Linked DNA regions of Homo sapiens. The protein of the gene in region 3 interacts with the protein of the main gene of each other region in a pairwise test. Each region holds a gene or a part of one and is shown on either strand. Other genes may lie near its edges.

The links.
Region 1: the proteins of AEN (region 3) and SSX2IP interact in binary tests that used the Homo sapiens proteins (3 or more experiments, as listed by UniProt).
Region 2: the proteins of AEN (region 3) and HAP1 interact in binary tests that used the Homo sapiens proteins (3 or more experiments, as listed by UniProt).
Region 4: the proteins of AEN (region 3) and RALYL interact in binary tests that used the Homo sapiens proteins (3 or more experiments, as listed by UniProt).

Annotation. Positions count from the first base shown.
Region 1 is NC_000001.11:84,652,435-84,659,488, reverse strand, and holds part of SSX2IP (afadin- and alpha-actinin-binding protein), read left to right. Parts: intron 1-1,020; coding exon 1,021-1,171; intron 1,172-3,004; coding exon 3,005-3,141; intron 3,142-3,483; coding exon 3,484-3,657; intron 3,658-3,900; coding exon of another isoform or gene 3,901-4,024; intron 4,025-7,054. UniProt on the Homo sapiens protein: Belongs to an adhesion system, which plays a role in the organization of homotypic, interneuronal and heterotypic cell-cell adherens junctions (AJs).
Region 2 is NC_000017.11:41,722,140-41,724,643, reverse strand, and holds the end of HAP1 (huntingtin-associated protein 1), read left to right. Parts: 3' UTR 1-2,004; downstream 2,005-2,504. UniProt on the Homo sapiens protein: Originally identified as neuronal protein that specifically associates with HTT/huntingtin and the binding is enhanced by an expanded polyglutamine repeat within HTT possibly affecting HAP1 interaction properties.
Region 3 is NC_000015.10:88,617,052-88,624,376, reverse strand, and holds the start of AEN (apoptosis-enhancing nuclease), read right to left. Parts: upstream 3,038-7,325; 5' UTR 2,995-3,037; exon of another isoform or gene 2,714-2,994; intron 1-2,713. UniProt on the Homo sapiens protein: Exonuclease with activity against single- and double-stranded DNA and RNA. Mediates p53-induced apoptosis.
Region 4 is NC_000008.11:84,529,238-84,536,291, reverse strand, and holds part of RALYL (RNA-binding Raly-like protein), read right to left. Parts: intron 6,994-7,054; coding exon of another isoform or gene 6,971-6,993; coding exon 6,715-6,970; intron 1-6,714.

The DNA.
Region 1 (7,054 bases), on a different chromosome or scaffold from region 3:
TATTCTAATAGGCTTTAAAATGTTCAGAAGAGAAGCTGTGCTTCCTTGGAAGAGTTACTGGCAAGTAGCTTTTGAGTATTGGCAGGGGCTAGAATCACCATGAGCCGGATCCTGGGCCATTCCCCTGTCTGCTCCGCCTCAGAGACCCTGACCTCTGCTAGCCCATTGCTGACCTCAACTACTGATAGAGTTCTTCAGACTCAGTTGCTCCCTCATCCTGCTGATCTCCATGTGCGAGCAGTCGAATCAGCCCTTCTTTCTTTTCATCTTTTATCTTTCTTTTTTCCCCAGCAAGATTTTTATTGTTCAAATTAGTGAAGTATATCTCTCTGCCTTCCTGAATATTAATGACAAATTAGAACTACTTTATGTAGATGTGGGTTATTATGACATATATCCCTTTTAGTATTGTTTCCCCATGTTCTTTATCCTGCTTTGATTCTGTGTGATCATATATCAGTAAAGTTTGCTACTTCTTTATGATTTCATGTTTGGCAGAATACAAAGAAAAGTATCTCCCGTTATATAAAAAAGTATATGAGGAAAATAGAATTAACAGTTGCTTTTATTAAATACTTCAGAGATTATTTCACAAGTGCATTTCTTTAAGCAGCCTAGGATTAGAAACAAGTTGATCTAATGTCAAATATCAGTTCTGCCTCTTAGTTGTAATGCTGCTTCTCTAAACCTCGGTTTTCCCACATTGTAATGAGCTGAGGGTTAAATAACGTGAAAACATCCAACACATTAGACAGGTAGTGATATCTCCTTCTCAGACAGCTTCATGACTCTTGTCATTAACTGTATTTGGATTCAAATTCAGGTTTAGAGAGAGCTGAATTTAGGAGTCTCATTTTTTTTCTCAAGACATTTAAATACTGGGCCATATATGCATAAGACACAGCACAGAAATGATTTTGATGTGGCTTCCTCTGGTAATCAAACTGAAGACTACTTGCCTGAGCATCTAAAGCCATTGTAAGGTACTAGCCTTTCCTCTTCATCTCTCTCCGCTTGTAGGTTATTTCCGATGTTGAAGAAGATGCCGGGGAACTAAGCAGAGAGAGTATGTGGGACCTTTCCTGTGAAACTGTGAGAGAGCAGCTTACAAACAGCATCAGAAAACAGTGGAGAATTTTGAAAAGTCATGTAGAAAAGCTTGATAACCAAGGTAACCACTGCTTCTATGCATGTAAAGTGAGTTGTGACATTTGGTAAGGTGTTGATTTTTAGTCACTTAGAAAGCCGCATTATAGGCTCAGAGCTAAAGTACTATACTTCAGTTTGGTGGTTTGAAAGCAAGATTTTGCATACATTTATTTTTTCATTTTATTTTATTTTATTTTACTTTTTGAGACAGAACCTTGCTCGGTCACCCAGGCTAGAGTGTAGTGGTGCCATCTCGGCTCACTGTAACCTCCGCCTCCCAGGTTCAAGTTATTTCTCCTGCCTCAGCCTGCTGAGCAGCTAGGACTATAGGCGCACATCATAGCCAGCTAATTTTTTGGTGTGTTTTTAGTAGAGATGGGGTTTTGCTGTGTTGGCCAGGCTTATCTTGAACTCCTGGCCTCAAGTGATTCACCTGCCTTGGCCTCCCCAGAGTGTCTGGATTACACGTGTGAGCCACTGTGCACAGCCGACATTTTACATACATTTAGATGTGAGGTTTGAACCTCACTGAGAAAAATACACTTTGGTCTCAGAGTGAATGTTTGAAAAGAGGACATCATGGATCCATCTGCTCTGGATGCAGTATACAATCAAATAAAGATAACTGAGTTGGGATAAAAGACTACACATTGGGTGTAGTGTACACTGCTTGGGTGATGGGTGCACCAAAATCTCAGAAATCACCACTAAAGATCTTATTCATGTAACCAAACACCACCTGTTCCCCCCCAAAAAGAGAAAACTGAGTCTCTTTTACTGACTCTCAAAAATCAAGAAATATTTATCGTAGTATAGATAGGAACATTTTGCTTATTTCTAGATGCTTGCAGATTACTATGTTCCTAGTAATTCACTTAAAATTATTTTTAAAATAATAGATGTTTAATGCAAAATATTAATTTGGAAGTATATAAAGTAGAATATCCTGGTCTCTATTCCATACATATAACACTTAACAGTTTGGTGCATATTTTTCTATACTTTCCTCTATGGATTTGAAAGATACTTACTTTTTTTTAAATTTTAAAAATTGAATATTACCTATATTTTTCTTTAGTGTGCTTTTTTCACTTAACTATTATCCTTATACATAGCTCTACATTGATGAATATATTCTTAATATTTTCTGCTTGGTAAAGTTTGAATGCTTTTAAACTAGGAAAATGAAGATTTCTGCTCAGTAAATGAAGCCTATTTAAAGAAAAATTTAAATTGTCAAAATATGAACTCAGTGCCATTGTGTTAAGTATTAGTAAAGAGCAATCAGCAAAATTATTATTACAGCACCAAAATGAATCTACATGAGATTTTGTTCATTTGAGTCAATGCTGTTTATTATCAAATAGCAAGTATGTTTGGACTTCGTATTTGTTGAATTTAATATTTGAGAGCAAGATTTGTGACACTTCATTGATCTTTGAAGCAGTGTCAACAAAAACATGATTTTATTTTTCTCTTCTCTGAATATGGCCATTTTGTCTGTTTTTAATTAGGACATAATCATGAATAAATATGGATTACAAATTGTTGGCAATAGAGCTCTGTTTGTAAGCATATCATTTAGTCTTAAAATTGCACAAATGTGTAATTGTCGTCATGAACTCCTGTAGTTGCTTTGCTTAAACATTTTTTATAATGTTAAAATAATATAAATTTAATTTTGTTATAGCTTATGAAATTTTAAAAAGTCAAAGGACGTAACTACTTTTTAGAAAACCTATAAAATTCTAGAAAGATAAAAGTTCTGAGAGCCCTTGTTTTAAAGATATGTGCAAAACACTGTAAACTAAGTGGTGGCTATAAGACCTATGTCAACTTACTGATTTTGTCTTAGTTTCAAAGGTACACCTGGAAGGTTTTAATGATGAAGATGTAATCTCACGACAAGACCATGAACAAGAAACTGAAAAACTCGAGTTAGAAATTCAGCAGTGTAAAGAAATGATTAAAACTCAGCAACAGCTTTTACAGGTGAATATGAATTACCTTTTAAAGCTGTTCTCCATGAAAAGCCAGAATTGTGCTGAACCTTACCAGATTTGTATTCCTTTATTTCATAAGGCCCTGGTATTTGACAGATTTCTAGTCTGTGTTCCCTGCTAACAGATACATTGTGTACCACTCCTTAAATAGTCCATACTTTGCTAGTTGGGGTAGTAGGTTTCGGGAAATGAGAATTCTCATTTGACTTTTTGATTCTTAATAATTTCTATTCCTGCCCTGAAGTTTGACTGGCCTTCCCTTGCTTTCATTTCAACTCGTTGGAGTGTCGCAAGGTCCCTCAGGAACTTACTATGTTTTAAATTTTAATAGCAGCAGCTCGCTACTGCATATGATGATGATACCACTTCACTATTACGAGACTGTTATTTGTTGGAAGAAAAGGAACGTCTCAAAGAAGAATGGTCCCTTTTTAAAGAGCAGAAAAAGAATTTTGAGAGGGAGAGACGAAGCTTTACAGAAGCCGCTATTCGCCTGGGATTGGAGGTATTTTAAACAATTGTAGTGCTTTTGAAAATACTGGGGGTGGGTGGGCCTCAGTAGAATGCTTCTAAGGTCTCCTTTTTTTCTTGCTATTTACTTATTTTCTAAAATATTTACTGGTGATCTCACAAATAATTTGAAATGAGAGGGAGGCTGAGCATATAGAATGGGATCATTTCCCCTTACCAGATTTGAGAATTGAACTTAAGAAAAAAAAACGCTATAAGCATTTATTACTGCTTTCAGATTGGCTTTCTCCTGCTAAGTGTTTTACACAAGAAATCTCTTTTGGGTATCCATCATTCATCCACGGTCAGTAGGTGTGGTGTCAGAAGACAGTGCAACCAAGACTATATTTGCTGTTTAAAAAGGAAGTATAATAAAAAATTAAGTTCTCTTCTCCCCAGTCCATCATTGTTATATATACGCTCTACAGCTTGCTTTTTTTACTTAGCAATGTGTCATCTACATATTCCCCCTTCAAAAATTGTAGCAGTAATGTCTGAATAAGGTTAAAAAAAAAAAATCAACAAAACTCATTAAAAAAAGCTACAAAGTAAGAAAGTATCCTCCTTTCTCATCCTCAGTTTCATTCCTTAGAGGTAACTGCTGTTAAAAAGTATCTGTTGGAAATTCTTCTAGGAAGTACTATTTTAACTTTTAATGTATTTCAAGTTTTCTTGTTTATCAGTTCATTGATTCCCTGCTATGAAAGATAAGGAATTCTGTGTCCTTATTGTACCTCCTACCTACACCCTTCCTCATTCACATCTCATGTCTTCATAATATTGTTCCTCTTGTTCGTCTGCTTGCCTTTTTTTTGCTTTAAGGAAATAATAAAAAGCTTCCATTTCATGTTTGTTCAACTTCAGTCAGTATCAGTTCATCCCTGCAGTGAAAGCTGAGGACTTTCTTGTTGTTACTCTTGTTCTACCTCTCTTGCTGTACTACTTTGCAATTTTTGTGATATTATTTTTCATTGTTATCACATTCATAGTTTGTCCTCTAATACAATCCAGGTATAAGTACTTTGTCTAAACTTGAGACTTAAAAGTTGGAAAACCAGGAAAGAAAATTGATAATACTACAATTATGTAAATGTTATTCTATAACCAAATATGTTTGGACACAGAAAATATTCTGTATTATTAAGACTTTGCCACCCAGAGAGATATATCACTATCTAGTGAATTCTTTTTCTCTGTAGCTTCCTTTGTGATTTCCTGAATCAGATTTCAGCTGCCATGTTGCTCATATCTCATGTTACTGTCTTTCTTGGGTTTCTGTTCAATTCGCTATATTAGTAATTGAGTAATTACTAATTCTTGAGTAATTTTTTTTTTATAAATAGTGCATGAGCTGTAAACATTCTGAATTCTGGAATAGTCAAAAATATATTCATACTTGATTGGTTTGGCTGTGTATAGAATTTAGATTCCAGTTTTTTTTCCTTCAAAACTTTGAATTATTCCATTTCTCCTAGTGTTTAGTTTTACTGATGAGAAGCCTGATTGTAATATACCTGTGTTACTTTGTAGATAACTGTGTTTTGTTTTCTATCTCCCTCTGTGGAAGCTTTGGTATTTTCTTAAAGTTTGGAAATTTTACCAGGATACTTCTAGAGAGTTCCTTTCATCCTAAAGATTCTGTATTTCTTTAATTTAGGGAAATTTTCTTCTTTATTTTTTCCTTCTTTGACTTCTCTGTGTTCTGGAACTTTTGTTAGACACACATTTGGCCTTCTGAATATATATCTACAGGTTGACTTTTGTTCTCAATTCTGGGATATTCTCTTACCTTTATCTTAGAGATCACGAAACTGGCCTTTCAGGGTCAGTTTTATTATTTGCTTTAGCCACTGAGTCTTTGCTTCAGAATTTATCTTTAAATTTTTCTAATGTCCTTAATTTTTGCTTTTCTTTATATAGCATGATGGTATTTTACAGATGTTTATTAATCTGATAATATTTGTTACATTTTTAAAAAAGATTTCTTTCATCTGTTGAATTATCTCTTATCCATGGTCAGTTTTCTATTTATCTTGACCTTTTTTCTATATTAGTTTTCTCAATGTTTGGTGATGCGTGATTCTGTATCAATATTTATGAATGAAAGACTGTGTGTTGCTTGTTTTCAGTAGCTGACGTGGATTTCCTCAGTTCACAGTGTGAACGTCTGTTTCATCAGTAGCTATCTTCAGGGAACAACACTTGACCAGCATTGTCTCCTACCTGTTTCCAAGCCCTTATTCCCCACATTACTCCAAGAGAGTAATTACTCTTGCTACTTTGCATATTGCTCCCAGTTGCCAGGTGCCTTTCCCTGCAAGAGAATTTTTCTCCGTCTGGTCACTGGGACAGTGGGCATAGTGAGGGATGGGAGGGAGGCATGCAAGACCTGAGGGCTGATGGAGAATTTAGTTTAGGATTCATCAGCTATTCAGAAGGGGGAGGTTTGACATAATTTGCCTATGCCCTCTTGTGGTTTAGTGGTGGTGGCTACCAGTACTGGTAGATGGCTAGAGGATGAGAGAAATGCTTGATGAAGTCATAGGTCCTGTTTTTCAAGTGACTAATTTACAATATAGATTATTTTTCTTTTGTTTGTAACTTTATAATGTTTTGTATGTTCAAAAGTTATGCTAATATTCTGTTCCATTTTTTGCATTGTTTATTTGAACTTAAAATTGATATGAAGACAGTGATGGTTGGTTTATTAGGTGAAACAGATGAATTTCTATTTTTTAAACATAATTTTTTCGTAAGTGAAATTTTTCTTAGTTTTTTTGTTTTTGTTTTTTTTTGAGATGGAGTCTCACTCTGTTGCCCAGGCTAGAGTGCAGTGGCGTGATCTTGGCTCACTGCAGGCTCTGCCTCCTGGGTTCATGCCATTCTCCTGCCTCAGCCTCCTGAGTAGCTGGGACTACAGGCACCCGCCACCACACCCGGCTAATTTTTTTTGTTTTGTATTTTTAGTAGAGACGGGGTTTCACCATGTTAGCCAGGATGGTCTCGATCTCCTGACCTCGTGATCCACCCGCCTTGGCCTCCCGAAGTGCTGGGATTACAGGCGTGAGCCACCGTGCCCGGCCGTGTTTTGCTTTTTGAGATGGAGCCTTGCTTTGTTGCCCAGGCAGGAGTGCAGGGGTGCGATCTCAGCTCACTGCAACCCCTGCCTCCTGGGTTCATGTGATTCTCCTGCCTCAGCCTCCTGAGTAGCTGGGACTACAGGCGCACGCCACCATGCCCGGCTAAATTTTGTATTTTTAGTAGAGATGGGGTTTCACCATGTTGGCCAGACTGGTCTCAAACTCCTGACCTTGTGATCCGCCCACCTTGTCCTCCCAAAGTGCTGGGATTACAGGCATGAGCCACTGCGCCCGGCTTTTTTTTTTTTTTTT
Region 2 (2,504 bases), on a different chromosome or scaffold from region 3:
CTGTGCTTATTTGCATGGACTTTGCATATCATTTGCATAGACACCTCTGATCCCCTTCAGTGGGAACCGTAGTGTCAGTGCTCATTTATGTGGCATTTGCTTAGGATTCCAGATCTCCATCCACTTTTCTCCTGGGGGCTGGGCTGGGGGTTAGGGCTGGGACTGTGCCCCCACACTGCGCCTCAGCTTCCCATCTCTGCCCGCTTGCTTCCCCTGCCCCCAACCCCTGCCTCCTCTATCCCCCAGGCTCTCCAACTCTGCAGCAGTGGCAGCAGCAGTCAAAACAAACACGGGGGGCGGTGGGTGGGATGGTGGAGCAGCCCGGGGGCTGACCCAGGCTGGAGGACAGGGCCAGCCACCCTCCCACGGCCTGGGAGGAAGAGAGGCCTTCTGGGACTGCCCAGGCTATGGGGACAAAGGCCTTCACCAGCAAGGGCCACAGTTGGAACAGTCCCCTGGGTGTCAGAAGGTGGGCTAGGGCCTCCTGCAGGGTTGTGGGGTGGAACAGGGTCTCCTCTCCCCAGCCAGAAACCCCAAAGTCTGGGAGCTGCACCTTCCGAGTGCAGGCCATGTGAGCCCTGCCTCTTTAAGGAGCCGCAGGACATGAAAGATGACCTTGTGACACTCATGCACAGCAGCCATTGCACGTGCATCAGCTCCCATCAGCCTCATTCCGTGGCAGGTGATGTGTCCCCATTGGTTAGGTGAGGAGGGTGAGGCTCAGAGAGCTAAGGACACTTGTTTGGGGCCACACAGCCGGGGTAGATCTGAGCCCGTCCTCTCTACTCCTGTGCTGTAGCACCTTCACTGGCCCATCCCTCCCCTCTAGTGCTGTCCTGGTACCCGTCCCAGCCTGTCCCCATTCTCATGGCCCTTTGGTCACTGCCGGGTGGAATAGCACTGGCTTCAGCAGGCGTGTCATGTAAGCTTGTGCAGGTTATAAACTGAACCATGACCTTTATGGCGCATGCAGGGGGCAACCTGCATAATTATCAATGGCGACTTTCCGTGTCCTTCTGATACAGTTGATCAGACCCCTGCCCACCGCCCAGGCCAGGCCTGTGGTCATCAATGCCCCAGTTCACATCCACCTGCTTCTCTTCCAGGCTTTGCTGTTCCCCAGCAGCCTGCAGAGGCCCCACAGACAGCTTGAGGCCCCTCCTTCTGCTGCCTGGCCAAGCCCCACACCCGCAGACCCTCCTTCCCATCCTCTGAAATGGGACCCTGTGTCTGTCACCAGCCCACCCTCTGTGTTCATGAACCTGGGCTGGAGCTTGGGGACCCCTCCCTGCCCCTGGCTTCCTCTTCCATGTTCTGCCCTTTCCCACATGTTGGAGGCTTTTCCAACGTCTTCAGGGACAGGCGGTAGGAACCCCGGCCCTCGCTCTGCAGCTGGTGCAAAAGCTGTGGCTGCCAGGTCTGGGCCACATGGCAGCCCAGGGGGCAGGAGAAGCCCGGGAGAGGCCCACTGGCTACCAGACTCAGCCCTGAGCAGGGAACAGGGCCCAGCTTCCACCGGCAGGGAGTTGTGAGCGCCTTCCCAACAATGTGCCCCTCACCCCTTGATGCCCATGCTAATGGTAGCCACCCTGGTTCTTGTTGACTTGAGGGACCTGGCTGTCTTCCCTGTTCTTCATCCTTTCTTCTCAGTCCCTACCTACTGTTTGTAACCACAAGTGTCTCTGTGTGTGGGTGGGTGAGGGCCCCTCTGCCCAGTGGTGTGTCTCCTCTCCCTCCCTCCCTCTTCTGCCAGTGGCCTGGGGGTGTCCAGGCTCCCATCCGTGGCCCAGCCCCTCTCCCCTCTGTCTTGATCCCCCCCTCCCTGCCCCTGGCTTCCTCTTCCATGTTCTGCCCTTTCCCACACCTTTGTTCCTCAATAGCTGGGGGCTGGGACTGAGGCCTCCTGCAGGTACCTGCCCCCCTTCACACAGCACCTCTCAATCTCCTATTGCTTGTCAGCCTGTGTGCGTGTGGTGCAGGAAATAAAGGATCTATACCCTCCTGGCCCAGCCTCCAGCTGTCTCTCTAGGGAGTGTGTGTGTGCACTTGGCAGGGCGAAGTTGTAGAGAAAGGGTGGATGCTAATATTGAAGTATGTGCCGAGGACTCCTATTAAATACGCCGTTTAATCATAGCAGCAGCTCCTAGAGGGCGGTGGGTGATGTCATAAGTGTCTGTTGGATGGAGAAACTCAGGCCAGAGTAGGTTAAGTGATGCCCTCACCAGCAGATCATGGCTAGTGTGGAGCTGGGATTTGAGCTCATGCTTCCCTGATCCTTTCACCCCAGAGACTGACTCAGTGGCCTGGCTGTGAAAGATAGGATGGGAGAGAGTCACCCACTGTCTTAGGGTGAAGTCCCCAGAGCAGACCTGGAACAGGGTTTAGGAACAAGTATAGTCGCCCTCCGTATCCTCAGGCTCTGCATCCGTGGAGTCAACTAACCACAGATAGAAAATATTTGGGGGAGGCTGGGTGCAGTGGCTCATGCCTGTAATCCTAGCACT
Region 3 (7,325 bases):
CCGCCTGGACTCACTGCCCTTTCCCAAGCCACAGCCTCCCTTCCCACTCACAGCCCTCCTGCTCTTTCAGACTCAGCTACTGTTCCGCCACCACCCAGAAGCCCTTCTGGAAGAAACTCTGTCCCACTGGGTTGCACAGGCCAATGCCATACTGAGGCTCTCTCGGGTCTCCACTGTGCCAGATGCTGGGCGGCTGCACAGGTGGATCCTGGACTCCAAGAAGTTTAGTTTCATGGTGGAGACAGAAACCAAGCATAAAGTGTGTTAAGGGCTGAAGCAGAGGTGCTAGGGAGGCAAAACAGGCTGGAGGACAATTCTCTGGAGGCTTCCTGGAAGAGGCTACATCTGTGTGCATGTACAACAGTAACCTTCCAGGTAGAAGGGAGAAGAATCAGTGGCCATGTTAGGGGCAAAGGCCTTAAAAAGGACTAACCCAGGGTGGAGGAAGAGGGCCCACCAGCAGCCTCAAGTCACTGGGGTGTAGAGCATAAGGCGGGTCATGCTGGAGGCACTGCTCCTCGCTCCTCTCTCCTTTGCACCATTTCATCTTCTGTTTCCTACTCTGGTGGCCCTTCCACAAGCCACCCCTACCGCAATCTGGTGTCCCCTGAATTGGTCTCTACTGGCCAAGTGAGTGGGGGAGCCCCAGAGGCACCTATGGAGGTCACTGAAATATCCCACAGTAGCCCTGACTCAGGACACTAAGTCTAGCTGGGGAGCAAAGAAATTCATCCCTCTGTGCTGAGCTCTTATAGCACAATTTGAGAATTATTACACCCTTCAAAGTCCATTGGTACACACAGTCTACCTCAGAGCTGTAAGAAGGCAGGTTAGAGCCTTGATTGTACCTTCCCCAACAGCCAGCCTAGAAGCTAGCATGTGGCAGGTCCTCTTCAGAAGGGTGTAGAAAGAGGTCTGGAGAAGATGAAAACCTGAGCAGTAGCAGCAGAGATTAAGAGAAATGGGAAGGGGATGGGAGGTGAGGTGAAATGCCAGGTTTGATGATGCCAGCATTTGCATAAAGAATCCCCACACTCTAGGGCAGGGCACCGCATCCTGACTTGACTCATCCAGACCTGACCCATCCTGACTCATCCACCCTGCTTGCTCATCCCATCCTTTCCAGGAGAAAAGGTCTCTCTTTTAAAAAGGTCTTAACTGTAACCAACTTCCTCATATTGACAGTCACATCTTAGAACTGACAAATTCAGAACCTTAATCTGCCTCAGCCCAGCAATGGGAGAAAAAAGCCTAAGAAGCCCAATGCCCACCCTGCTAATAACTAATTTGGGAAAGGGGGCTGGCGGATAGTCCCCTCCTTTCTCTGTGAGGGGCTGAGGCTAGGAGTAGGGTGGGTGGCTTTCCTGATCCTACTGGCAAGGTTTTAAAGAAGCCAGAAATTAAGTTATCTGAGAAAAGGTCTCTGTAGCCTCCTATTTCAAGAGAGGAAAGTAGTCCTTTTCCAAACACCCTGACCTTGCTTAAGAGAAGAGAGAAAGAGACCTCCCCCTCATATTGTTCTGTATTATTTTATACTCAGTACCTGTTTTAAGAAGAAACAAGGAAGCAAAACCAAAGGCAGGCAGCCCGGCGCCACGCACCAGACCCAAAACCAGACCCAAAACCAGGCCTGGGCCTGCCTGACCTTAGCCTGATAGTTAAAATTAAACCCATGACCTAGCAACCGATGTTATCCATAGATTTCAGACATTGTATAGAAGGACACTGTGAAATCTCTTGTTCTGTTCTGTTCTGTTTCACTCTGACTACCGGTGCATGCAGTCCCTGTCACATACCCCCTAGATTGCTCAATCAATCATGGCCCTTTCTTGTAAAATCTTTAGTGTTGTGAGTCCTTAAAAGGGACAGAAACTGTGCACTCAACAAGCTCGGATTTTGAGATGCTAGTCTGCCGATGCTTCCAGCTGATTAAAAGCCAATTCCTTCACTACCTCTGTGGGGTTTTGTCCGCGGCTCCTCCTGCTACATGCTGACACGTCAAAACCAACAGTCATCAAGGACACACCTCTTTGGGGACCCAAATGTAGCTCAGTGAAGCTGGAGAGAAGTTCCGCTCAGATAAAACAACCCTTTCAACAAGGACAAACACAAGCCTTTCTCTAGCCTGGACCCAGCGCTCTGGGGGTCAGACACCCGGCCTTCAGGCAGGGAGGGGGTCTGGCCTAAAGAAAGGGTCCCAGCTGCAGAGTCAATGGAGCAAAGGCCCCAAAGGAACCAAGAAGTCAGAATCCTCGGTGGCATGAGAGCCACCAACCTGCTGGCTGATCAAGAGGGCAGAGGGCAGTTCTAGACCCTCCTCTGGCACTAAGTAGCTAGATGATCTGGGGCAAGTCACGTCTCTTCACCATCAACCGAGGGCTGTGAATTAGATAAGGGCTTCCCAAATGTAGTTAATTACCATATGACATCTGATGAAAGGCTGATTTTCAGGCCCACTCCCACACCGTCCTAATTGCTATTTTGGGGAAAGGGGCCTGAGAATCTAGATTTTTAAAAAGAGCGCGGACGACCCCTACCCTCAAGCCACAATTCTGATAATCGCCCAAACCTGAAAAAACCTGGCTCGATAAGGTCCCCTGTGCTGCTAAAAAGTCCACGGAACAACGACAACAACTAAAGTCTGCTATCCTGGCACGACCTCCCCGCCGGCTGGCGTTCTCCCAGGCGTGACGCGTGGGAGGCCTGATCTCACCGGGAAGGACTCGGGCGTTGGTCACTTGCTGGCCGCGGCAGCTGGGCCGAGTCCCAACGACCAGCGCCGCCCCCTCTGGCCCTGGACCCCCGAGCAGAGCGAGGGCTGGAGACAGGCGGCGCCCGGCCTGCTTTTCTGCGGGCCGGTAGGGCAGGGTCAGCCCAGTTCAGGCGTCCCCGCCGCAGGCCGGGGCGGAAACAACGCGCGGGGACCTGCGACCCGGGACACGCGGCCTCAGCCCGCCCGACCCCGCCGCCCCGGTGCAGGGTCCTGGATCTCACCTGAAGCCCCGCGTGTCTCTTCCGGTCTGCACGTGGCGTCCGGAAAGCCGGCAGCTCCCACATGCCCGGGCAAGCCCGGCTCCGACTGCCCGCCTATTGGCTCGCTGGACGGCAGCGCCCGCCCAAGACCTCTTCTGATTGGTCGAGCCTGCCTGGCAGCGGGGAGGCGGGCGAGAGCAGAAGGGGAGGGACTCCTGAAGAGGGCGTAACTCGTGCTGCGAGCCGGCCATACTGGCGGGAAATTTTAAAGAGAAGGGAAGGGAGACTGACCTCCTGTCGTCCCTGCCCGGTCCCATCAGTGTTCCCCGGCTCCAATCCACTCCTCTACCTGGGTCGGGATGTGGGCTCCTGTAAGCCTGGTACCACCAAAGGCCGAATGACTTACTGAGTACACCCACATCTGCAGATTGGGAACATCGGCCCTTACCTCCTCGGGTGTTCTGGGATTCAAGGAAATAATATACACAGTAGGCACTAAAGAGAGACTTTGAAAGTCAGGTTTCCTCCGTCAGCGCTGCTTTTTCATTTATTCTTTTGCAACACTTGACTCCTAAGTATTAAGTTCCTACGTGGGCTTGGCAGTGGGATGCACACAATAAACACATAAGCATCCTGAGTTGTTTATCTAACAGCAGGGAAACAGCAAGGTTAACAGAAAATTCAGTGCAACATGAGGCCGGGGCGCGGTGGCTCACGACTGTAATCCCAGCACTTTGGGAGGCCGAGGCAGGTGATCACCTGAAGTCAGGAGTTTGAGACCAGCCTGACCAACATGAAACCCCATCTCTCCAAAAATACAAAAATTAGCCGGGCGTTGACGGGAGCCTGTAATCCCAGCTACTCGGGAGGCTGAGGCAGGAGAATCGCTTGAGCCCAGAAGGCGGAGGTTGCAGTGAGCCGAGATCGCGCCATTGCACTCCATCCAGCCTGGGCACCAAGAGCAAAACTCCGTCTCAAAAAAAAAGAAAGAAAGAAAGAAAGAAAATTCAGTGTAACATGAGTAATAACAAGAACAATAATAAACAGTTCACACGTATTATGTGAGCACGAATGATGTGCCAGGCAAAATACTCAGTTAATTTGTACAATGACCTTACTATTATTTCAGTTTTACAGTTAAGGAAATTGACACTTAAATTAAGGAGAAACACCTAGAATCCAAAGATCCTTACCTAAGCAGTCTGACTTCTCTTAGTTCACATTTTGCAAGCAGAAGTGATTTGGAAACGTACCTGTGATGAGAAATAAGCTAGGAGCTCTTTCTGATGGGAGTACAAATTTGAGGGAAGCAGGACAAGGGATGAGGTCACAAGAGAGATCAATCCTTTTACCCAGGCCCCTGAAGGCTTTGGGGAGGCAGAGGGATTTAAGCCATAGATAGTTTACCAGTGAATCTGCATTTGAAAAAACTTGTTCTGGCTGCAGCATAGAGAGGAATGGATGAGGACTGGAGAAAGGAGTGGGGGAGTGTTTGTGGAAATTTGGAAGATCATGATGTCCAGAGTGGTGTGGAGGATAAAGAGCTCCCCACCTAAGTAGCATTTGAAATGACAGATTCAAATGCTACTTAGGAGGCAGCGTTGATCAGAGAGCAGAGGGGAAGGGGTTATAGGACAGCGGTCTTCAGGCATGGGGACTGTGGGAGGTAAATCTGGGGCAAGGAGAGTTTTTTTTGTTTTGTTTGTTTTTGTTTTTGAGATGGAGTCTCACTCTGTCACCCAGGCTGGAATGCAGTGGCACAATCTCGGCTCACTGCAACATGTGCCTCCCGGGTTCAAGTAATTTTCCTGCCTCAGCCTCAGGAACAGCTGGGATTACAGGCACGTGCCACCATGCCCAGCTAATTTTTGTATTTTTAGTAGAGATGGGGTTTCACCATGTTGGTCAGGCTGGTCTCGAACTCCCGACCTCGTGATCCACCCACCTTGGCCTCTCAAAGTGCTGGGATTACAGGCGTGAGCCACCACACCCAACCAAGGAGAGTTTTAAGAGAGTCAATATCCAGATCCTCTGCTTCCATGGTGCTGGGCCTCAGAATATGCCTGGGGTCTTTGGGGTTCAGCTTCCCTCTCCTCATGTGTAACCAGCTGTCTCCCACTTTTCAAAGGCAATTCACACTGCACCTGTTCTAAATCTTGCTCTGCTGCATTACCTTGGGAAATAAAAGTCTCCAGGAGAAACAATAGGGCAATTCTAAATAATGTATTAATTATTGTTGAGGACGGGGCAAGAAATCCTTCTACAAGTCAGGTGGTTTCTCATTCTTTGCTTTCACCAAGATCCAAGGAGGATCTAATCATGTTGTTAGGTCATTAAAAACATTTTCTTGAGACCAAGGCTGGAGGACTGCTTGAGGCCAGGAGTTTGAGACCAGCATGGGCAACATAGCAAGATCCTGTCTTCACAAAAATAAATAAATGTGGAGGTGTGTGCCTACAGTCCCAACTACTGGGGAGGCTGAAGTGGGAGGATCCCTTGAGTCCAGGAGTTAGAGGTTACAGTGAGCTATGATTGAGCCACTGCACTCCAGCCTGGGTGACAGAGCCAGACAGACCCTGTCTCCAGTAAACAAATAAATGAATAAATAAATAAATACATGAGTATAGATAATTATCAGGAATTTAAAAGAAGTGGGAGAATTGCCAGACTAAAACCCTTCCCATTTCTCTATGGTTTTAATGTAAACAATGTTTATCAGGCTTACAACTATAAAATCAAAACAACAGACTCACCTCTGTCTCATTCTTACAAAAAGTGATACTCATCTCTGGACTCACAAATTTATGGAAAAATAACTGGCTCAATCCATCTCCTTCAAAGATATATTTTCCATGACATTTTAATGAAGATTAATTAACTTGTATGTTTAAAGATTCTCTCATATAATGAAATGCTATGCATGTATTTTAATCATATGTACTACTAATAATTACAACAACATTTCAATCTAGAAGGAAAAAAAATTAACCCTTAGAACCTCATGGTCACAGAAAATTTTTTAGAGTTAACAAGTTCAAATTTATCTGCATAATTGTGTGACAGAAATGTACAATAGGGTGCTTCATAAAATATTACCAAGCATGAAAATATATTATGCTTGGATAAAACTCCGTAGCAGAAGCTGAAGAAGAAAAAAAGAATGTTGCATATTATGTCAAATAAAAAAACAGACCCAGATTTGATAAAGAGAGATTTTATTTAAAAGGATGATTTTGGGGTGGGGTGAGGGTGGTAAGACTCTGTAAACAGGGAGAACACTCAGGCCATAAATCTACAAACTCTCAAGGGGTAGGCAAAAAGGGATTTTCTTTTATAGGAAGGAGTAAACCAGTCTAGAAAGAACCTGGTGTAGGTAAGTGGGATGAACGAGAGTGACAGGGTGGGGCAGTAGATCAGAGATTGCTTTATCCTGAGGCCAGCCTGTTCTCAAGGGGGCTGTTACAGAGGGATTTCATGCTGGTTTAGGCTGAGGGTGGGCCAAAATTCAGAGGCCTTGGGGAAGGACAAAAGCTTAACCAAAGTTTCATTAATGAGCATTTTTTTCCAGCTGATCAATGGGCCAAGCATTTCAGCTAGTCACTTATGAGGCAAATGGGAATTGGGGCTATCTGTATCCGGTCTAGTAACAGGGTATAGTGGGGAATCGCCATAGAGGGGAATCCATGAGTTTTATCTCAGTCATTGCAGTGAGCCATTTCCAGAACCCGAGAGACGGGGTTGAGGTGGGGTTAGGGGGTAAGGGGTTAATCATTGCTGTTCTCTAGGAGCACAGTGCTTAGGTAAAACTCAACATTGTCATAAATAGTTTTTTCATGTACTTTAAAAATGAAGGCCGGGCGCTGTGGCTCACGCCTGTAATTCCAACACTTTGGGAGGCCAAGGCGGGTGAATCACCTGAGGTCTCAAGTTTGAGACCAGCCTGGCCAACATGGTGAAATCCTGTCTCTACTAAAACACAAAAATTACCTAGGTATGGTCGTGGGCACCTATAATCCCAGCTACTCAGGAGGCTGAGGCATGAGAATCTCCTGCACCCCGGAGATAGAGGTTGCAGCGAGCCAAGATTGCACCACTGCCCTCCAGCCTGGGCAACAGTGCAAGACTCTGTCTCAATAAATAAATAAAGAAGCTAGGCAAGGTGGCACATGCCTGTAGTCCCAGCTACTTTGGAGGCTGAGGTGGGAGGATCACTTGAGAAGGGCAGGAGTTTGAGACCACAGTGCACTATGATTGTGTTACCCTCCAGCCTGGGCAACATAGTGAGACCCCACCTCTACAAAAAATAAATAAATGAAAATGAATAATATTTGTATCAAATCATTATGATATTT
Region 4 (7,054 bases), on a different chromosome or scaffold from region 3:
TAATCTTGGTACTCCGTATTTTTCACTTAACTCTTCCATGATACTTTCTTTTTCTTCATCATTTCTAGTGGCGATTAGACATGTTTGAATGGAGGGATCTAACGGAGAAAAATCACACCTCTAAAAGTCAGTGTATTAAAGATGTGAAGAGACAGAAGGCTTTGTAACAAACTGGTGATATAAGTGGGTAAGCTATGGTCATGAATACATTAAAATTGCCCTGAAACGCACTTACTGAGTTTTATTTCCTGAACAATTGGAAAAGATACATTCTTATTATAAATTATGAGTTACTGTCAAAATAATTCAAAGCATTGTTTTAATATAGTTTATCCTAAGACCATTAGAACAATTCTGAAAATTAATGGAGTTTATTTTGGTATGATTACCCTACAACAGTAATTCTTAACTGGAGTGATTTTGCCTCCCAGGAGACATTTGGTAACATGGAGACAATTTTTGGCTGTCACTATTTGGAAGGGGTACTATAGGTATCTTGCAGGTAGAAGTCAGGGATGCGGCCGGGCGCGGTGGCTCACGCCTGTAATCCAGCACTTTGGGAGGCCGAGGTGGGCGGATCACGAGGCCAGGAGATCAAGACCGTCCTGGCTAACACGGTGAAAAACCCATCTCTACTAAAAATACAAAAAATAAAATAAAATAAAATAAAATAAAATAAAATAAAATAATTAGCCGGGCGTGGTGGCAGGCACCTGTAGCTCCAGCTACTCAGGAGGCTGAGGCAGGAGAATGGCGTGAACCCAGGAGGCGGAGCTTGCAGTGAGCCGAGACAGCGCCACTGCACTCCAGCCTGGGCGACAGAGCGAGACTCCGTCTCAAAAAAAAAAAAAAAGGCAGGGATGCTACTAACATCCTACCATGCACAGGACAGGCTCCACAAACAAAGCAAAATCAATGAGAGTAACTTTTTACTCTCAAAAGTATTACTGTTTGGATGACAGAGTTGATGATCACTCTGCTGAAATGGAATAAATTTCTGGAAAGAGAAATAGTAAAAATAATTACGGTCAGAAAATGTGAGCCAACAATCTTGCACCACCATTTGTGTGATATAGACTAAGTTCATTTCTCTGTGCTTTGGCTCCTAACCAGCAGAATGGGCGTAAATACTAATATTATTTATTGGCATTGTTGTGAAAATCAAAGAAGATAATATGTGCATGAAAGAACTTTGACAATGATGAAGTGCCATGCAAATATCCAGCTATTAATAAGAGAAAACTATGAAAGGATGACATTTTAAGGAATGTGTAGGAAGTTTTTCATGAATAGAAATCTTTCTTCAAACCAATATATCCTTCACTCTAACTTTTGAATAAAGTATATATGTGTTAATATTTCATGCTTATTAAAGATTGGATTATATTTATAAAAAACTGAAATCAGGCCTACGAAACAGTTACCTTTGGAATGTCTGTTGAAGAATTTCAAGATTAAATACCTAGTCTCCTTAGCAAGCTGATCATGATCACTTTGCCTTCGCTTAGCAGCAACCCCAACTATATCGCCTCACTTTCTGGGGAACTTGTAATTGCCACTTCTCCTTCCTTCTTCTCCCTGTTCTCTTCTTATTTCTCCTCCTCCTGCTTCTTTGTCTTCTTCCTGTGGTGCTCTTTTCCATGTGAGGGACCCCTTTAGCCAAGTCCATCCATTCCTCCTACTAACCATCTATCCAATCATTCATCCAGTACATCCTCACTGAGCATTTGCCATGGAAGTGTTAGCATTTTGTTAGGTGCTAAGAAGATGAGTAAAAACATATATATTCCGTGCCCTAAAAAACTTATAGCTTAGAGGGAGAAGGGACAGATATCAATTACAAAATAATAAATATAAAAATACAATTGAAAAGAAGATACTTGCTAGAAAGTGAAGTAAAACACTCCAGCTAGCTTTGAGGGACACAAGTAGGTTTCACTAAAGTACTGAAATTTCATTTGAGATCTGAAGAATGATTAGCCAGGCAAAAGGGATTAAGTGGGGAAGTAGGGTGAGGTGGTGCAGAGCTTCATAGGGAAGAACTTTCTGAGCAGTCAAGATAGCATGTGCACAGGCCCTGTTGGGCGATAGAACACAAGTTGTTCAAAGAACTGAAAGAAGTGAATGTAGTTGTAGCTCTAAGCAAGGCTGATGGGGCTATGATGTGAGTCTGCAGGTGACAAAGAAACAAATGAGGTAGAAACTTGTAGCCCACAGCAAAGGTTTCATTCTTTTTTCTGAGAACAATGAGAAATCCCTGAAAGTTTTAAAAGACAGTGACATGATTAGATTTGCATTTTGAAAAGATCACTCTGGATGCAAAACAGTTGGGGATGAAAAGACATTTGAAATCCATTGCTCTCAGCACATGCTTGACGGGAATTGTTACAAGCATTTGAATGTTCTCTTCTTTGTTCTTATATCTCTCTCAAACATCTTCCTCTCTACTAAGACAATTCCATTACTTCCTTCAGGATCTAGTTAAGTATATTCACCATATTTACTTTAAAATTTACCATCCCTATTCATCATGTTCCCACTTTGAATTCTTTCTGCATTTGCAAGACACTTACAATGTGATACAATTAATTTAATTCTCTGCTTTATATATTCTTTTCCTAAAGCACACTTTGCTTCTTAAGGACAGGGGCCTGCATATGGGTTTCAGAACAAAAATGATTGCTCTAGATAAATTATTTTTCAGTGTTTGGTTCCTCCTACTATCCACAGCTGGCTTCTCAAGTTCATAAATTGTATCTTTTACAAGCATTGTAACAGTAAAATAATCCGAATATAAAGAAAGACATTGCAAATGTTTATTTATAGCATGTCTGTAATCAAGCCAATGTAATCAATAGATACATAAAATTGGCACTGTCTAGTCTTAGTCTCTAACCTCTGCATAACATTTTGTGTAAAAGGACACTTCGTATGTGACTACTCATAAAAATTGTCTCTATTAAGCATTTAAAATGTTTTTATCTCGCATATAATGTGTTTGAGGAAAAAAGTTCTAATGACTACACTTAGATTGAAAAATGCAATAAATATTTCCAATATTAACAAACTTAGAATTCAAACTCAATTAAATATTAAGAGGATATGTTAAATTTCACCTGCTTATATTTAAATTGTATTAAAATCAATTAAATAACCAAATATAGACGTAAAGTTTTATGAGGATTTTTACATTATAGGAATTGTGATTTAAAAAAATTCTGAATAATGAATAATTTCATAGATAGATTCTGACATTTTAGGAATCCCTAAGTAATATGAGTCAAAATGCAATCTTTTTTGTTTTTCCACAGAGGTTTTAGCAGTCTTCTATTATATATCAAAGACAGAAGCTAAGAATAAACATGGATACCCTCTATCATGGTGCGAAAGACGTGCCAAACAACTGGAAATGTATAAGAAAGTAAATTAAATTATGGCCAAGTTATCTATAGTCTTCATAAAACTTTAAGAACTGACATTAGAGTGTTTAATTTTTCCTGGTACTACTGATGTTTAATTTTTAATCTCTAAATCATATATAAATATTTTAAACATGCAGTAAATAAAAGATTGTTCCTTTTCAGAAAATGATGTACAAATATGCATTATTTGAGATCAAATAAGGTAATAAAGGTAAAGTACTAATGCAGTGCATGATCTAATCAATATTAATTTCCTTCTCACTCTTAAGAGAAAGGAGAATGCTTAGATAGGTCGTGGTACCTGACACTAATAATAACTTCATATAATAATAGCCTATTATTTCATCCATAAAAATGCACTTCATATTAAGAACTGGCCGGGGTTTGTTGGAGGGCAGATTAGAAAGAGTTTACTTGGGAATCAAAAAACTCAAGAAGCAAGTGATTAATATACTTGAACCTAAGTTTTGCTCAAATCATCAAAAACAAAGGTATAATACTTAAAGCTAGAAATGTATATACATCCTACAAACTGAGGGTCTTCTTCGGGACCTGATGGATGAACTAACTTCTATAGGGAACAATTGGAAGTCATGTCTTTGCCTGAGTTTCTAGCAACATAGTAAAAAACAAACAAACAAACAAAAAAACCGCTGGGTATATTCAAGCACTTGACCTGAAAAGCAAAGTTGTTAGATAAATTTTAATGTACTTGCTTTGTATGAAGTCATTCAGCTTGGACAGAGGTAGTGAAAGACGAGATTTGAACTAAAGAAATAAAGTCTAAGACTTGGTTTCAGGCACAAAGTGTGATTATAGATGATTAGGATATATGCTCTAAAGATTTACCTGAGGACAAAACTAAGAGAGGATCTAAGAGGAATGACTGAGAATGAGAAATGGTATCTTAGAAGAGGTACAATTTAACTTTGTGCCTCTCAAAGCAAAGCAATTTGGTGTCATCATTTTTTTCCTTGGGTTTGTGCATGTAAGGCACTACATTTTTAGTGTGGTATTTATCTTTGCCCATTGCATTCTTCTCAAAAAGACAGCAATCAACTGAGTAGTGATAGGAAACAGAACTCCAGAAAATTAGCTGTAGCTCATTAAAAAGTGAATCAGGCTTTTAATTGATCTTAAACTGATAATTAATTTTTCAAACAACAAAAATAATTAAATGCATTTCCTCAAGTATTTGTTAGTTTCATAACAATCAGGATACAGACAGTAAATAGAGCTTGCCCTGAAATCTGCTGGGATATGGCCCTGAATTAAGACTTTCAACTTAAAAAGGAAAACACAAATGTCAGAAAATTCCCATATCAAAGTAAGCAAGCAGAATGGAGACATTAAGGAAAACAAAAAGACAAGTGGAAAATATACCAATGTCTGTTGGAAAGCACTTCCTTTCTTTCCTTTCTTTAAAATATAGAAAGTTCGATGGGACCAATGTAAATAAAAACTATATTCCTATCTGATAGTGATTTGTTTGCAGTTAAATATCAGGCACTTACCCAAAACATCTTTTGCTTTTTTCCCTCAAGACTATTCCCTCTGACTTCTCCTACATTTTAATGAATTCATACCTTCCCAAATAGTTTTAATTGTGTTATATCATTTGATAATATTCACAATATTCTTAACACTCTCCTAGCTTGATTTCTCTATACTTTTAACTTGCTTCTTTTGTATGCTTCTTCATCTTTATATTTGTGGTCATGACACAGGTAAGATTATAAATTGAACTATGTAATCCAGATTCTGATAGGTGCTATGAAAAAAATTAACACACAGTAATAGAATAGACAGTGAAAGAAGGAGGAAGATGACTATTCTATTTTAGATAGGCTGGTCAGTAAAGGCCTCTCACTGGAGGTAAATTTTTAGCACAGCACACTCTAAAGAAAGGAGCAAATAATTAGCAAAGACCTGTTGTCTGAGCAGAGGGAATAGCAAATACAAAGCCTCTGAAGTAGGAACAATCTTGGAATGCTTGAGGCATTATCAAGGCAGCCAGCATTACTAGAGTGGTTCAAGAAGGGAGAGAGAATAAGGAGATAGAATTGAAGATGTGGCAGTATAGGGCATTGTAGGTATGGTATAGAATGTGAATCTTATTCTGTATGAGAAAGGCATTAGAGGTTTAAAAGCAGGTTAAGAACATAATCTGATCAATGTTTTTAAAAGACACTCTGGCAAGAGTAAAAAGAAGCGGACCAACTAGGGAGTTATTTCAGTGCCCCTGAGATACAACCATGGGCTGTATGAGATGGCCTTCAGCACACATTTAAAAGGAGATTGGGTTTGGACTATATTTGTAATATATTGACAAGCGAACTTGATGATGGGGGAAGTTAAGAATCAAAGTTTTTTTTTTTTTTTAAACTGGATAAATTGGGGGTTCCCTTTATTGTGATGAGGAAATTTGGGAGTGGAGAAGGTTGAGGGTATGGAAAATCATGGGTTTTGTTCTGGGCATATGAAGCTGAAATGCCTTTTGAGTATCCATGAGAAGATGCTGTACAATGAGTTTGATATATTAATCTAGACAGAACAAGAAACATAAATTGAGGAATCATTAATATATTAACCATATTTTTTTCCTAAGGTAGAAAAACATCTAAATAATTATCTAATTTTGATTTTTATCTACACATTAATTATAAAATATTTTTCCAAGTCTTTTTATTTCAGACTGCATTGTTTTCCTTTCTTTGAAAAAAACTATATTATTTCTTGAACATTAGACAGAAATCTGATTATTATGCATGATTATACAGGTATAATACACAAAATCCTTAACTAGATTTTTAAAATGTGAATTATATTCCTTTCCCCATTCTAAAAATTTACTTTCTTTCGCTATTTTCTACCCCTTCTCCTCCAAAACATAGGAAATGAGGAAAATGCATTAGGCTCAGATCAAATGCTATAAGTATGACAAGTGAAGTTATTTTTTGCATAGGATAGTGTTTCCTGGAAGACAGATGCTATCTCAAGTCAAATAAAGTTAAACCTGATGCATATTTATTATTTGCCTGGCTGTGTTAGGATGGGTGGAGGTAATAAGTATTGCAAAGTAGCCTTGATCTCAAATTTATAAATTTGTACAGAAAATAAGATACCTATATACAAAACAATATGAGGATGAAAAAATATAAATAATAAATATAAAATCACTCTAATTGGTTAAAGAAGAGGTAGAAACAACAGTGGTGTTGGGTTTTGTGAAATAAAACAATTTCCAGATATATGAACAATAACGTGAGATCCATGTCTGAGCATGACTTACCAAGTGGTTGGCCGGCGATGACTCTGGCATTTTCTCCAGCCACTGCAGCTCTTGCATGTCGCTCACTCATGTACTGTACAAATGCATAACCTTTGTGAACGGAACATCCAACTATTTTTCCATACTTTGAAAAAATGGCTTCAATGTCAACTTTCTTGACAATTGCCGTATTTAGATTGCCGATGAAAACACGGGAGTTGATGGACTTGGGGTCATTCTTATTGGTGACGTTGCTGGTCTGTGTTTTGCCAGTCATGATTGGCTCTCCTTGCTTTAATCCTTAAACAAACAAACAAACAAACAAAACAAATAATCAAAAGGTAAATCATTAGATCGAATG